Regions from separate parts of the Homo sapiens genome. Here region 2 is linked to region 1. The links come from fine-mapping of genetic effects on gene expression. Tissue or cell type: aorta. Region 1 holds a variant in brackets; the other region holds the start of a gene. All regions are shown on one strand. Distances are between the middles of the regions.

Region 1 (8,185 bases):
ACGCACAGACGGCGTCTTCTGCCACCAAGAGACCCGAGAACTCCAGATTCACGACATTCCTGTCCCATGTAGAAGCATTTCCATTCAACCGTGGCCCCTCTTCAGAACCTAGACCTATCAGTGCCATTTTTTTTTCATAATCTACGAAGAACTTGGCTATGGCTGATCTTTTTTAAATTTAACTTTCTGATGGACCCTGTAGTTTCCAGTTAAGTGCAGATTCCTTACAGACATATAGAACAGCGCATTCTTCTGTAGACATTTGCTCATGTTGGTAAATACAATCACCCATATGAAAAAATTGTTTTCACCTGATATGAAAATGTTAGAAAAGGCAAACTCCGGGACTTCTAAAGATTTACTTAAATCCCATTATGTACTTTATTCAGAATGTAGAAGCTGACTTGAAAGGCATCCTTGGTACTAAGTGAAGCTTATTCAGAAAATGCATTTTTCAAATGCAATGGCAACTGCTTGTAGATATCATTTTTGCAGTGTATGTTGGAGCTGTAATGGTTGCAATTATGTTTCTTATTTCCTTAAAAGCAAAAAGCGTAGTTTCTGATTTATGTTATAGAATGATACTGATTAGACTTTGAGCCAAGGGGAAAATACTAAATTCTTTTAAACCTGGAGCCTTAGAGAGCCACAGGAATATCTTCTGTTGTACAGTCTAATAAGCTGTGGTAGGAAGTATCATGTAATCACAGTTTAATGACAGTTTATGTATATATATAATTCAGTATTCCCTCTGATAACATAGTTGCCAGTGTTTAATACACTTGTAACTTGGATTTTTACCTTATAGGCTATATGTATACTCAGTTTTTTAAAGCATTTTTTTCAGAGATCACTTAATTCCCCATGCTTCTGCAATGCATATAAAAACTATAAATGCCGAGTGGTAGAAACTCCTCTTTCTTCATAGTCCTCAGGCTTTGGTTACATTTGCATATGCCATTTGAAGCCTCCAGCTTTTACCAGTTTAACATCCAAAGTTCACAGCATCAGCATTCATGGTGTAAGAACAGTTTTGCAGTATAACACGATCTGATAATCATTCAGTTATTAAATTGTAAATAATTATTGGGATGGTTTCTTGGCTTTAAGTCCACTGAATAAAAACTATGAAATTGCACTCTGTGTCAACCATCCACTAGGATAGAATACCGAAATCTGTGCATGCAAAAATAGGAGATGGGCCCATTTGCACACAATTCGTAGTTATGCAGTCTGCTATATAAATATGTTCACATGCACTGTGTGTATGAAAATAGATGGTCTGTGTTCAGACAAAAGTAAAACATTTTTTTCAAATTGTTACATTTAAAGGTTTTCTGGGAGAAATTTATGAAACGCAGGCTGTGTCTATTTGACATCAGAAATTTCCACTTTAAACCAAAATAATAAGAAACTTTAATCTGTATATTTACAACCTTTGTTGAGTACACTTCCCCCTTATTTATACGTCTGCATTTCCTTCCGAGCTTCACATCTTTCTAAAATGCAGCTTGGTTTTAAAATAAAAGAACATTCATTTTGTGATTCTAAACAAGCTTCAGTAAATACCACCAGTATAGTACTGGTGAATTTCTCAGCATAAAATCGACATACCTAAAAAGTTAATAAAATTCAGCTCTTTTCCAATTTCATTGTTATGCCTATTGAAGTATTAATTGCCAGGTTTGATTTTTAGTGAAGCTTGGAGTCCATACTTTGAGCAGACCAAGTGAAGGGAAGAACAGAAAGAAACTCAGGAGTAGAGTAATATCACTTCTCACTTACACCACTTTCAGGCACATCCAAAGAGTTCCTAGATACTTGGAAAATGTCTGAAAATTTTTAAGTAAAATACTAAACTTTTCAGTGTTTAGCTCAACTTTTTGTTCATTTGGAAGTTTCTCTCCATCCGAGGACTTAAGCCAGTTTTGGATTTGTAAGCCCTGAGTACAATACACTTCCTGGAGGCATCCTCACTGCTGTTGAAGCAAAGGATATGCATGGGGTGGAAGGACGGCTTCGAACCTGGGACTCATATGCCTTGAGAACAAATAGATTGTTACAGCCTTGGGCTGCTGCGTAATCACGGTTCCTCGAGGCTCTTCCTGAGCACATGCCCAAGCATCTGCCTCTGGAGAGACTGACTCCAAATGCAGGTGCTTCCATTGGAGCTAGGTCGGAGGCTGCTTTATATGACGAACTCCAGAAATGGATGCCAGAATACGGAGGCCAAACGTTCTGAGTCCTGGTAAGGACAGTCGCTCTGGGGGTCCTCATTTTACTGCAGTTCCTGCACGCCAGTGAAAGAGAGGAGATAGACCCTGGAAGGCAGAGCTGCAGATGCTCATCATCAGGTCAATTCTGGAGCTACAGTTTTGTTTCTGACTGGATAGGGATGCACCAGTGACTGTCACATCAAGCAGTCCTTTTATTCTCTCTCCTTTAGTATCGATTTTAAAGGGCATTAGGCACTATGGTTCCAGAGTTTCTTGGGGAAAACTTGCAGATTCTTATTAATTGGTTCTGCAATACTTAAATAAATTATTTTACAATTATAAGTTTTCAGATTATAACATTTGTATTAATTTTTACTGATTTTCCAAGATACTTCTTAGATTTACTATTTACGTAGCTTTATGTACATTCTCTGTAAAAATAGACCTCTAAATATGAGGCTTTACATGAAATTTGTACACACATACACACTAATGTTAGCTCCTTAAATTGCTGCACTAAGGTGCTGGTTAGTAGAGATGGACGGAGCCTCTCGCGTTTTGCTCTCAGATGTGTTAAAGGCGCACGTGTACCTGCTCTCAGCGGCAGTGCGGCCTCCCCATCTGCTGGGTGCCCATGGCCCTCCCTGCAGCCTCAGTGATGACCTCGTCTGCCAGGGACACAGGTTTTCATCATTTACAGGCTCTTATGTGCTAGTTTTGTTGGTAGCACGTTATTTAATGCATAAAGGCAGAATTCTTACAAGTTTTTTTTTTTAATGTGAACATAGATGCAGCACCGACTTTTTAAACTTGAAAAAACTGGTATAATGTTAACTTTTAAAAATAACATTTGGACACACTAGTAATTGATTTTTGTTTACAGATTGTTTTGTTTACAAATTGTTAGTCTTTGTTTCTATGAGATACTTTTAGTGTGACTTTTTAAATGTCTTAGAAATTAAAAGTTGTACAAAAAGTGATTTCATATTTGGTTTATAAGCATTTATATGTGGGGTTTATTTGTTCTTTTGTTTTTTCCATCTTAAATATTATCATGGCTAAAACTTAAGGGTATTTATAGTTTAATTCCATTTCAGTTTTATAGAGGGCAGTAATTATTCTGATGAATGTTGAATTAAGAAATGGATATTTTCTTTCTCTGTTGTGCAGTTATTGGTAGATCAATTTCTTATAACCCACAATGTAGCATCAATAATTGATAGCATGTATTTTATTTAATTACTTGAATTATTTAGACTTGATTTCTCTAATTTTTTCCATAAAAGGACTGAACAGCACCTACTTGTGGTCTGGACAGCTTAACCCAGAGTTCCTGGAAGAATAAATGCTGTTAGCATCTGGTTAATTTACTGGCAGACAGAAGCCTACTTACAGTGGCTTTCAACTTTTTGACCACAGTAAGAAATAACCCATTACACACACACACACACACACACTCTCTCTCTCTCTCTCTCTCTCTCTCTGTCTCTCAGATACGTATAAGCAAAAATTTAACAAGACAGTACTTGTTTTTCCTAAGTGTGCATGCTGGCATCTTCTGTTTTATTATTTTTAAAAATACTAGACACAGACACTAAGTTACTTTGTGGCCTCCTAATAGATGGCAGACTTCAGTTTGAAAAGCATCCCTTTGGAATGTGGTTTAAAAGAAGAAATAATACAAAGACCTTTTTGGAGTTTTTTTTTTTTTTGGTTTTTGAATATTGTTTAGGTAAAAATTATTGCTGCAAACACAACTGAAGCAAAAGTACTGTGTACGCAAATTACTTGTTGCACTGTAGAAAATGTAATATCAGGAGAAGTTCCTAAAACTCACAAATATATACAAAATTTCAAAACTTGGTGATTGATCCATATGTCTTGAAGGAATATTAGGCAATAAACTTACCTTTTCAAGAGAAGTTATTTAACTTCCAATTCTGTGTTCTTTAATTAGGAAAAAATTTTTTCAAGGTTAACTATAATCAAATAGGAACTTCACACAAAACCTCATTATTCTTGGATATGGATTTGGTGTTCTGCTGTTACTTCTAAAGGTGGTACAGAAGTCAAGTTTATGAGCCTGGATTATGAACAGCAGGGCGGCCCTGATGTGAGTGGTTGTGGAGGACTAGAGTGATGTAGAAGAATCTGTTGTGTCTGAGTGTGAGGAGGTGGAGAGTCACGTGTGGGCTATGGGTCTGAGAACTGAAGTTTTAACAGTTACTAAAACTGTTTTGTGGCTGTTGTAATGTCTTCTCCTTTCCTTTCCTTTGAAAAGCTGTTACTGAATGAACGATGCCGCTTACAAACACTGACACTTCAGAACCAAGCATATTTGATACTGCTGTAGCTATTTATATTGATTCTGCAACTTCTCTTTAACAGCATCTTGAAGTCATCCACAGTTGTTCTATATGGACTCCACAGTAGAGTCAGAGAACTAAGTGACAAGTGGAGCATCGTCCTCCTCCTGCTCACTTCCTCCTCGCCACCTCTCTGGCCTGGCTATCCTTCAGTCTGAAGAGTGATTCACTTTTTCTTTTCTTTTTAGTCTTTACTGTGGAATCTCATCAAAGACTTGGAAGCA[G/A]GGGTGGTGAGAGGGGCCTGGGGCGTGGTGTGGAGGGTCGAGTTCTTTGTCGTCCCACAGTCACCCCCAGGACCACCTTGCGAAGCCGAAAATACACATCTGCATTTTACCGACAAGGAACGCCACTGAGAAAGCTGCAGACATTTGCCTGGGGTCACGCTTACAGTGGGCAGATGAACTGGATGTAAATACAGGCCAGTACAACCGCAGTCTCATTTTTTCTTTGTTTTAGGTTTTCAGTTTCTTGTTCATTCATGTACCTTACAGTTCTATTATCTGGTTGATAAAGATTCATGACAGGTATCCTCATTCTAGATTATAACCTTTATTCTTATCAAATGCCTCCAGTCCCACAATTCGCTAAGAATTCTCTTTCTGGACTTGATAGTGATTTAATGATTCCCCCCGCCCATGGAATGGTAGGCTCCTAATTAAGTGGATTTAAAGGCAAAAAGGGATGTGTGAGAAGGCACAAGAAGTGGCTTCATCTTGCAAGGTGACTGTCAGACAAGTGGGTTCCAACCTGTTAAAATAAGGGAGGAATGGCCACATCCCGTAGGGACTGCTGTAGCTGACCAGGAAGACACAATGAGGGCAGCAGACAGGGCTCTCCCTGTCCGCTGAGTCCTCCCATGAACTCATGTTTCCAAAGGCCCCACTCTTTCTTGGTCAGTGTCCCAGTTTTTATAGAAGAGACCTGATGAGGCTGTGGAGTAATTGTATAAAAGCTTGCACTGTTTTCCTGACTTGACCTGACAATGTGGCGTTATCTTCAAATTGTCCAGAGAAGTAGCTACTTCATTCAGGTCCTTTTTAGCGTTCTGTGGTTGCAACTTGGTCTCGCAAGCTTTCGATGGGCGCGCCATTCCATGGCCACTTTTCAGTAAGAAAATTGCCTGATTTTCTGTTAACTGTCACAGGCTGCCCTGGACCATTCCTCAGAACTCATGGGATTTTCGCGACCCTCATCCTCAGTGAAGTTAGATGACCATTCCTGCCTTTCATCCCACCGATTTTCCTAAGTATCTGTTGCCTGCAACTAACACTAGTTCCTGTGTCAGTAAAGTACTGCACTTGGTTGCAAAGAATAGAGATGGACTCTGCCAACATAGGCACGGAAGGTTTACGGGGTGGATGGCATGGCTCACAGATGTGATGAGAAAGCCCCGGAAGAAGTGTTGGGCACAGCCTTAGGCACAACCTTTCCTGGGCTCTTCCCATCACTGAATGATCCATGTATCTCCGGGACTCTCCTTCTAGATCCAAAGTTTAGGGCGGCGGAATCGGACTGCTCTGGCCTTTGACACGTGCCTGTGCTTTGCCTGTCAACGCTATGGGGAGAGAGATGTCAGCTTACAGAAAATTGAGGTTCTGTGATTCAGTTTCCCTCTGCTCTCTTAGAATAAAAGTGCTTACTCATTGTTTAAAGCATTCTCCAAATTAGTCTGCAAATTTTTTGATAGTATACATCCTTAAAAAATGAGCACATCCCAATATATGCATATTTATTCATAAATGATACATACATATGTAGCTATATAATGTGTACATCACAAAACATAGGAGAGTATTTTTTCTAAGGGATGAGATAAGAATAAATAGAAATTTTGGCATTTCTTCTCACATTAGATGCTGGGTTATTCTGAGCCCATGCCATGTGCACACCCACTTGGCCTCTTCCTCTTAGGCCTACACCCTGCCCTTTCCTTGCCCCTTGTAGTTACTGTGGCTGGAGTGATGAGCGCCACTCCCAAGCATGGCCTGGAACAATGTCCTCCTGCCCCTCCACCAGCAGTGACAGGATTCACTGGGGACTCGGGGGCAAAGGAGACTGTGTCACAAGACAAAAGGAGCCAGGGTCACACATGGTGTACCCTCGCCCTGCCTCACCCATGGCTGACATGGGTTGGACACCTCAGAAATCATGTGTCTTCAGCGAGCCACTGAGAGTTGGGGCTTTATCTGTTACTCGGCTAGGGGTAACCTAACCGATGAGACTGTAACTGGTTACTGTAAATAACCAAGCTCCCAGTAATAGTAAACCAGTGACAAAAACAATTCTTATCCAAAAAGGTTCACTTTTTTTTAAAATGTGTGAACTAAAACAGTCTTTATTGCTCTAAGACATTAAAATTTGCACTTTTTTGATGTTGAATACCACTGAATATTTTATTTTTATATTTTATTACACAGAAATACAGCAATTATTACAAAACGAGTATTAGGAATGGCAAAGGCTTTAGGACAGACTATTAGCGGAAAACATTTGGAACTTAAGGAGTGTTTTACATTTGGAACTTACTTTAAGGAGTGTCGTTCAGACACTAGCTATATCTTAACCTCAATTTTTAGAAGTAAGCAAGCTCTCATTTTTTGCTATTCATATTTGAAGTGATTAAACTCATAAATTTGAAATTTACTTTTTAGAGACCAAAGATTAAAATTAGGTGGGATGTCAGCTTTTAAAATATACTAAGATTTCCTACAACTACCAATAGCTTATTTCCCTGGGAAACAGATTACATTGTAGTACTTAACCCAGAACTCATGCAGTTCATCCAAAATGATGGTAAACTTTTTTCCTCAGAATTACCTAACTTTCCTTGACTATGAATTCAACATTCAAGAATCTTCTTCTGGTAGCAGGAGCGGCAGAGAGGACAGGCATGGAAAGGAGGCCTGTCTCCCACGGAGAACTCCTCTAGTGCCAGCAGACACGCATGGTGGAACACATGTGAGCAGGACAGGAGGGCCATCTCTCTGGAACGCCTGCCTGCACCCACGCGCTGACCGCCAGCAGCGGAGAGAGGGGCCAGGCAGATGGAGCACTCGTGGGTCTCCCGGCGCAGAGCCTGCGGCACACAGGACGGGAAGAGGCCACGCGGGTTAGTTTCATCACAGCAGAAAGTTACTTAAACTGAAATGCGAACCATGTGCCCCGAGACATGGGTCTTCGAAACATGCGGAAGTTTCATTCTGTGTTAAAATCACATGCATTTTATTTATATATATACATATATATATACACACACATATACTCTGTTACTCCTGGGAACTGTGGAAAGGGTTAGTAACCCACCTGTGATAAGCAACATCCAACAGGAACTTCCAGAATTTCAAACTGAAGGGACCTTTGCCGTCACCCTAAAGCCCATGAGGAAAGTCCTACCACAGGTGCAGGGGCAGCTAGGGCAGCGGTTACCCCGGGACTGACACTCCTAGGCTTCCCAAAGTGAGTCCTCGACCTCCCCCGACATGCCACCCCCACAGCCTCCACGGCTGCACCCCGGGCCTGACACTCCTAGGCTCCCCAAAGTGAGTCCTCGACCTCCCCCCACATGCCACTCCCCACAGCCTCTGCAGCTGCAGCTGAGTCTGC
Region 2 (8,185 bases), 40 kb after region 1:
ATTTAGAGGAGTATTATGTAATATATCATTTAGAAGAGAACTGAGGCTTCAATACTCAACCTTGATGGCACATACAACCAAATCAAATAGTAAGGAATGCTTGACTCATTGTTACCTAAGTAGGAGCAGACCCTTGTCTCAGCATTTATGTTAACAATACAGGAATATCTTTTCATTTAATTATGAAAGCCTTAATTATAATATGAATAAATTCATTATGACCCATAAACCTGTGCATGCCTAAACAAACCCACGCTGCTTCACTATAATTAAATTAGACTCCAGGCAACTACTAAGGAGACTCCTGCCATTTCAGCTTATGCCTTTTTGTGAAAACTTAATAATTTCCTGTGCAGAATAAAAATCACCAAACAGCTAAGAGATGCTTGCAGTAAATATCGCCAGAGATTGTTTTTCCATTGGCTTGTCCACTGCCCCATGCGACACTTGGCATCGCCCATTCCTGCTGACAATTCCTAGTTCAAGCAGGGTTTGCAAACTAGTTTTTATACTCTCAAATGGCTGAATTAAAATACATTTCATGAGTCAAATAACGTGTATGTTTAAGAAAAGAATAGCGTACCTTATTTTTTAACATGCCGAATTAGGAAAAGTTGTTGCTTGGCTATCACAAATTCTATCATCACATCCTATCACCTTCCTTCTATTCTTCTGCTGCAAAGACGTGGTCAACAGAAAGTCAAAGTTACAGTGCACAGAAAAACCATGAAGTTTGTGAGGATGCTCTGTAAGAGTCTAACAGATCCTGAAGCAGCAGGAATGCCTGCTACAGGGTGGCACTAAGCTACACATTCTGGTTCTGGAGGAAGGGGGTGAACTCAAGTCAGTTATGCTTCGACTCATCCCTGTCCTCAAATAGTTCACCCCTGAGCTCCTGAGGACACATTAATACAAATGGTTAATTACTATGAATTAATCCATTGCTAAATATAACATGATACATAAGTACTACAAAACTTCAGGCTAACACTGGAGACTTGGAAAAACCAGTTAAACTGGCATTTGAAAGATACACAGAGGGAAATGAAGATGGCACATTACAGGTAGGAGGAAAGAACTGGCAGGCTGGAAATCAGCATGATATGCTTATTTTGGGGAGAAAGGGAACAATGAAGAAACTGGAACGCAAGAGGAACACTGGCTAACTTCAGTCTGTCCAGAACACAGAAGTACAGAATATGGGGACAGACCAACTTGAGTTCCAATTGAACTCTACCGCTTTGCTGCGCAAGATACTGGACACAGCTGAGCCCCAGGCTCCTCATCTATAAAGCAGGTATAATAACGCTGGCTTTGCAGGGTTGCCGCAAGGATTAATGAGACAACCTTTGAAGTATCTAAAGTAGGTCTTTTCACACAGAACTTACTCTTGTTATTCTTGCTTCAATTCCCTTCAAAGCTGGTGGAATAATTTGGAATTGGCCCTTTTAGATTTTGGACATGGTGTATTTTATGAAGACAGATGTATTCAAAATATACTGTGATGAGGAGAAATAGAAAGTTATTCAAGTAATCTAGGAACTGGCACAGAAGGCCCTTGAACATATTTCTTCTAATGTTGTTTCCCTATAACGCTGATGAGAAAAAAAATTGATCCCCAGCAGGGGCCACTGTCTGTTTGGAGTTTGCACGTCCTCCCCATGTGCTGTGGGTTTCCTCCAGGTACCCCGGGTTCCTCCCACATCCCAAAGCTGTGCACGTGAGGCTCACTGGGGCGTCCCCGTCTGAGTGAGTGTGAGTGTGCCCTGCCATGGGATGCCGTCCTCTCCAGGACTGTTGCCCGCCTTGGTCCTGAGCTGCCTGGATGGGCTCAGCCCCCTGCCACCCTGAACTGGAATAAGCAGGTTGGAAAATGAAAGGATACAAATTATTGTCAAATAAAAACTCGTAAAGCATACGGTATTCACACAGAGATGCAGGACAATACCCGATGCAGTAAGAAAGGCCCAGCGGGCTGAGAAGTGGCTCCTGTTTGTTTTGAAACTGCATGGTAGGGGGAGGTGCTTCAGAGCTTTGGCTTGGCCAACATTATCTTTAACACAGCCCCTCCACAACCCGGTCACTCATGGATTCACCAGAAATTGGGTAATGATATTTCTTAAATGTAGAGCTCATATGTACTTCAGTGTTTCATATTAGAAGTGCTTTGGTCTTTATTTAGAAGTTTGGCGATGTTTTTGTGACCAGGAATGTGCTGTGGGAACTTTCCTCTTATTTATATCAATTAACCTATGGTGAAACTGGTTTCCTTGTACACTGCATGGCTTAAAGCTCCAGTTTCTAAGAACCTATGGATGATGTTAAGTGAAGACTTACTGTGTTGAGGGCCTAACTCTAAAAATAGAAAGAAATTAATCCAAAATGTATTTCTAAGGACTAACACTTGTATTAAATTACTCCAACCGAAAGAACAAACTCACTAAGGCGTGAGTGGAGAGATAGAAAAGCACAGTGGAACCAAATCTCTGAGATATCCAGGGTTAGAAGTAAAAACGTCAGTCGCTGCTCAAGTCCTGGAGGCTTTGATGATGGTTCTTACTACAGCCCTTTTCTGTTCCCGTTCAATTCTGGCATCAAGAGATGTTTGAAATAAGTTCCACCCTGTATCTCATCAAGACAACTGAACTTGGAGAAATGGTGGAATTTAAAATACTGAAAGATCACTGCCAGAATTTTCTCAGTTCCTGCTTCCAAAATGCCTATAACCTGCAGAAGATACAGTTTGCATCACACTAAAAATGGTCCGGTCATAGCTGCAGTCTGCAATTTAATCTCAAGTTTCTACACAGTAGACCACTGTCATTAATATCAAGGTAAGAGCTTTTAAAACCTATACTCTCTTAAAGTCCTACGGTATCATTAAGTTTTAGAGTTTAAAATTCAGAATTTAAAGGTATTGAAAACCCTTCAAGTACCTACTCCAACTCCACTTTATAAATGAGAAAACCAAATACCAGGTGAGTCCTTCAATATATAATGAGCCTGCGGCACTGGTAGGGTTAGAAACGTAACCCTTGCCCAGTATTGAAAGCTAAGATTAACAGGAACCCGTTGCTTTGTAAATCCCAGTATTAAACGCTCAAGAGGCAGAGCTTGGTGGCAAAAACGATCACTGGGGTGCCAAAGCGAGTAACCTCAGCTAATTAAACACGCTCAATAAAAATACACGAGACCAAGCCTACGACGTAAAGATGCAATCCTACGTAGGGTCTTGGTGTTATCTCCTGCCTTCTGAACCCCGCTGACCGTTTTCTGAGGTTCCACTCATGCAGGAAGCGCGCGGTGACGAGGCTCCAATTCCTCTCAAAGCTGACACCACCCTGCACCTGGGGCCCCTGATGGCAGCCGGTCCTACCGGGTTCTAAAATTACCGACGTGGGATCACTGTTCTAAGGCTTTAGGCAGCCGTAAATTCGTACCCCTCAGATAGAAGGAGCTGTGGAAACTAACCAGGACCCCGAGTCCCCCAAGGAGGCTGCGCGCCGCTACGGGACCCGACCTCGCCTCACAGCTGCGGCCATCGCCGGCCCGGCTCGGAGGAGGCGAAAGCGAGGCCGCGGACGGCCCTCACCCCGAATCCATGGACCCCGCCCGCCTGGCGGGCCACCCTTCTTTCCGTCCCTCCCCCGAAGCCTCTCCGTGCCTCGACTCCTCCGCGAACACCGGAACCCAGGGACGTCTGCCCCTTTTCCCTCAGGCAACTCCCTGGCCGCCCACCGTTGCCGTAGCAACGCCCGCCTCCGCGCTCGCTCCCCGCGGGCTTGCTCACCAGCCCTGCCCCGCCCCGCCCCATACTGCGCATGCTCGCCAGCCCCGCCCGGCCCACATTGCGCATGCTTGCCAACCACGCCCTGTCCACACCACACTGCGCATGCTCGCCGGCCCCCGCCCCGCGCACGGCGTCAGCGTCTAGACGCAGGTGCGTTCCCGTCGAGGCTCGCGCAGCGGGCGTTTTTGGGGATCGCCTGGCGGGGGTGTTCGGGAGCCGCGGGCTGAAGCACGGGGGCGTGCAGGCGCCCAGGCCTCGTGTAGTGAGGGCCGAGCCCCGCGCCGGCTTCGCTGTAGTCCGCAGCCCCCGGCGGCTTTGTGGGCGCAGCCACGCTCCTCAGCCGCCCGCCCACCTGGGCCTGGGCCCCGGTTGTTTCCCTGCGGTGGCTGTGGTCGTTCCCGTTCCAGGGTCTCGAGCGCACCGCCCCTTCGCTGCGCTGTTAGTCGAGGGCAGTTTTCTGGGGGATCCCCCGATCCCCCCGCGCCGCTCAGGCGTCTTGGCTCGCGGAAGCGCAGGCGCCGACTGCCTGGCGTCGTCCGTGACTCCTGGCCCTTCTCTGTGGATCCCTTTGCTTCTCGTTGCGGGTTGTGTTTCCTGCTTCGTGGGCCTGGCCGTTTGCGTTTGGATGCAGGCCCGGGTGAGCCCTGCGTGGCCCGCTGGCCTTTTCCTGCTCCCTAGGTGACTGAGCCGCGTGTGTGACACATCGGAGTGAATTGAGGCAACGCGTTCCTTTCCAGGCTTGCAGCGGGCGGTGTCGTTCACGCTCCTGAGCAGAGCCTTCCGGTGCTTTACTCGACGCCACAAATAGTGCAGGGTTCCTCCCAGGGGCTGTCGCGAGCTAGAACTCTTCCCCGCCCCTGTGAGCTCGGGCTGTTCTTCCTCCTCCGCGTGGCTCACTCCAGCCTCGGATGTTTCCTCGCTGCACAGACCTGCTCGGGAAGACTCGAGAAGGCCACCCCAGGACTCCAGCTCTCCCCGGAAGGGCTTCCCCTCGGATTGCGTCTTGGCCCCTGGAACCCTCCCTCTGTATCCTCTGCTGTTCCTCTCTTGGCCTCCATTTGGGTTGTGGCCTGGATACTCTGGCTCGCTGCTTCCCTTCTCTTAAGGATCACAGCCCTGCACTGCCTGTCGTCCGGTGCCTGGAAACCATTGTATTTTTTGGTCTGATTTTGTAGTTGTTTGAGAACTTAAGTCTGGTCCCTCACACTCCATGCCCAGAAGCAGAAATGAGTAAAGTTTGTTTTATCTTTTCTTAATATGACAATTATTGTGTTGGTTCAACTTATGTTGTACTTTAATTAGAAGAAATTTGGCCGAAAATACAAGGAAAATATACAAATGCAAGTAATTTTTTTTAAACTTCCCTGAAAGCAGGGTCTAAAGAAATTACCAACCAACTTAGACTGGATCTAGAAGAAAAGGAAGGGTCTTTGCAGTCTTAGGACTCTTCCGTTCCGCGACGTAGGTGTTAGGATAACAGCCATAAATGGTTGTAAGACTTTGGGCTCAGATAAGTAGACTTAAGTTCAAATTTTGACTTATTTTACAAGTGTGTGATTTTTGGCAAGCTCATCTTCCTAAACCATGAGCTCCTTATTTGTAAAGGGGACATTAGCCACTCTCCAGCAACAGCCCTGGTACTTCTTCAGTCCTGGGATGGGACGTATGATTAGCCTAAGCGAACCAGAAAATCCAGGCCCGTGACCAGTGACTTGATCAGGGCTGGCGATATATCTAGGTAGGCCAACCAGGTGGACTCAGTATTTTTGTGGGTGCTACTGGAAAATTTATTTAATTCTAACTGAATGTAGAAACAGCAACAGACATGAAATGGCAGTTGTATTGCTGTCTTATCATGAGGTGAGGGCCTGAAGCTATGGTAGCCACCCTGTGAACCTTGGAAGGAGGGTTCTACAGGAACTGGCAGAGCTGAGACTGGGACGCAACCCATGTCCTGGTGACGTATTTGAGTCCTGAGGCTGGCCCTCCTGTTAGTCTTTTCTCTTACTGGCTTCAGCCAGATGGGGTCTGGTTTTCTGTTACTTGCAACAGGAAAAATTGGAATGATATCTATGCATGCTATTACCGCCTTATGGCTGTGGTGAGATTAAAACATGATACTGTGGGTGAACTGCTTAGTACAGTGCCTGCTATTCTTTATGTTGGTTTTAAGGTATTTTTCTTGAACTTTAAAGTTCTAAGAAAAATTACCGTTTTAAAATTCCTACCCTCTGTTCACATGTTTAAATTTTCATGATAGTTTTTCTGTCTGCATGTTTTCTATTCAAAATAAATTGGTCATTCTTCAGTTAGCCACGAAGAATATTGTGAATTTTTTATTTTTAAATTTATTTTTTATTGATACATATTAGATGAACATGTTTTTGGATAACGTGATAATTCGATAAATTCATAAAATCAAATCAGGGTAATTGGGATATCCATCCCCTTAAATATTTATCTTCTATTTACACTAGGAACATTCAAATTATTCTAGCTATTTTGAAATGTGCAATCGATTTGTGTTAAGTATAGGCTTGACTGAAAATTTAACCTTATTGCTTTCTAATTCTTGACAAAAACAAAGCTAACATAGTTGATATTTGAAGAATACATTCATTCTTCAAGATAGTGTGTTCTGTTGAAATGAGTTAGATGATCAGAATGCAACATTCTTGGATAGGGATAATTAAAAATATAGTCAACCTATCTTGTCCCCAAAACCATGTTATCAATGATTTGTATTTTAACATTATGCCTTTTGTTTTAAAAAAGTTTTTTTGTTTTTTTGAGATGGGCCTGAGAAACTGCATGTATACAAAGCATGTTTACATCTTCAGAAAACTGCTATTGAGTACATTCTCCATGGTGCTGTTCAGTGCCATTTGTGTAAGCACCCACATGATTGTTTTAGAATTTCAAAACCACTAATTGAATGTCCTAGGAATAGTGGAGACGGAAGAGAAAATTAGAGGTGCATGATGTTAAGGATGTTGAGGTGCTTAGTCACAAGGAGAAGGGCACCAGTGTACTTGGCTGATTAAGATGCACTTCTGTACTCCACTGTGCTTAAGAAGAAAGCTGCGGGTGGTACTCTAAGAGATCTGTTGTATAAACATTATCACAAAAAGAGTGATGATACCTGTGCTTATCCAAGGAAGAGCAGCCCAAGATGGATGGCAATAGCGGACTATTTAAGTGGAAGACATTGATATGAAGGGAAAATCTTATATTTTGCTTGTGTAGAGCGCAATTCACAGAAAGTGTTCAAATACTAGAATAGGCAGTTGGAGTCCAGCTTGTGGAAGATGGGGTTTTCTTCATGATGACACTAGAGATCATGATATTGGATACTAGTGCTGGCCCTGTATTTTTATTTATTTATTTATTTATTTATTTATTTATTTATTTATTTATTTATTTTGAGACAGAGTCTCTGTTGCCCAGGCTGGAATGCAGTGGCGCCATCTCGGCTCACTGCAACTTCTGCCTCCCAGGATCAAGTAATTCTCCTGTCTTAGCCTCCCGAATAGCTGGGATTACAGGTGCCCGTCACCACGCTTAGCTAATTTTTGTATTTTTTAGTAGAGTCGGGGTTTCGCTATGTTGGCCAGGCTGGTCTTGAACTTCTGACCTCAGGTGATCCGCCTGCCTCGGCCTCCCAAAGTGCTGGGATTACAGGCGTGAACCACCGTGCCTGGCCTATGGATTCTTAATGTATCATACCCATAATATTTGAATTTGCCCACCTGCCTAGTCTCTAAACACTGCACTAATGAAAGCCTAGGCAGGGTCAGAATGGTTCTTAGTTCAATATCCTTCTCACATTTTAGTATCTTAATGCTCTCACATTTCTCCTTTGTTATGTACAAAATATTCTCAAAGCCTACTCAGTGCCTATTTGACTCTTGTCTCTCTTAACACAGTCCTTGACATCTAAAACAAACCTAAGGAGCAGAAATTGGTGGCATGGGGTTCATCTTTAATTTAGTTCTCAATTTTAACCTTCACCAAAACCATCTCTCCATTTATTTTTCTTAATCTTCTGTATTACCTTTAACTTTCTACTCACACTTGTATATTTATTTATTTATTTATTTTTTCTTTCTTTATTATTATTCTTTAAGTTTTAGGGTACATGTGCACAATGTGCAGGTTAGTTACATATGTATACATGTGCCATGCTGGTGCGCTGCACCCACTAACACGTCATCTGGCATGAGGTATATCTCCCAATGCTATCCCTCCTCCCACACTTGTATATTTATTATCAATTTCTATTCCTAACTTGCTGATGTGGTTTGGCTGTGTCCCCACACAAATCTCACCTTGAATTGTAGTAAGTAATCCCCATGTGTCAAGGGCAGGGCCAGGTGGAGAGAATTCAATCATAGG

Alleles and levels. Positions count from the first base shown, and alleles are read on the strand shown. Sizes are in standard deviations (SD) of each study's normalised expression.
As copies of G replace A in region 1, the expression in aorta of the gene that starts at base 3,702 in region 2 goes down (moderate effect, 0.42 SD a copy in GTEx).

Evidence for each region. PIP is the estimated chance that this variant, and not a neighbour inherited with it, causes the effect.
Region 2: it holds the start of RNF32, and the variant in region 1 is fine-mapped to the expression of RNF32 in aorta (GTEx, PIP above 0.99). The same link has a PIP of 0.9 or more in adrenal gland, atrial appendage, breast, cerebellar hemisphere, cerebellum and esophagus mucosa.

The regions. Positions count from the first base shown.
Region 1 is chr7:156,675,892-156,684,076 of GRCh38, reverse strand. It overlaps RNF32 (ring finger protein 32), which reads right to left. Exons shown (of 9, transcript NM_030936.4): 9 at 6,947-7,658. The coding sequence ends at 7,422. LMBR1 (limb development membrane protein 1) reads left to right here. Exons shown (of 17, transcript NM_022458.4): 17 at 1-6,286. Among named protein-coding and RNA genes, the nearest start is that of RNF32-AS1, 20 kb to the right of the region's middle. The variant G/A (reference allele first, on the strand shown) is at 4,807.
Region 2 is chr7:156,636,291-156,644,475 of GRCh38, reverse strand. RNF32 (ring finger protein 32) reads right to left here and starts at 3,702. Exons shown (of 9, transcript NM_030936.4): 1 at 3,665-3,702; 2 at 584-675. The coding sequence starts at 598. RNF32-DT (RNF32 divergent transcript) reads left to right here and starts at 3,941. Exons shown (of 4, transcript NR_026865.2): 1 at 3,941-5,528. RefSeq lists a silencer at 3,802-4,111 and an enhancer at 3,680-4,271.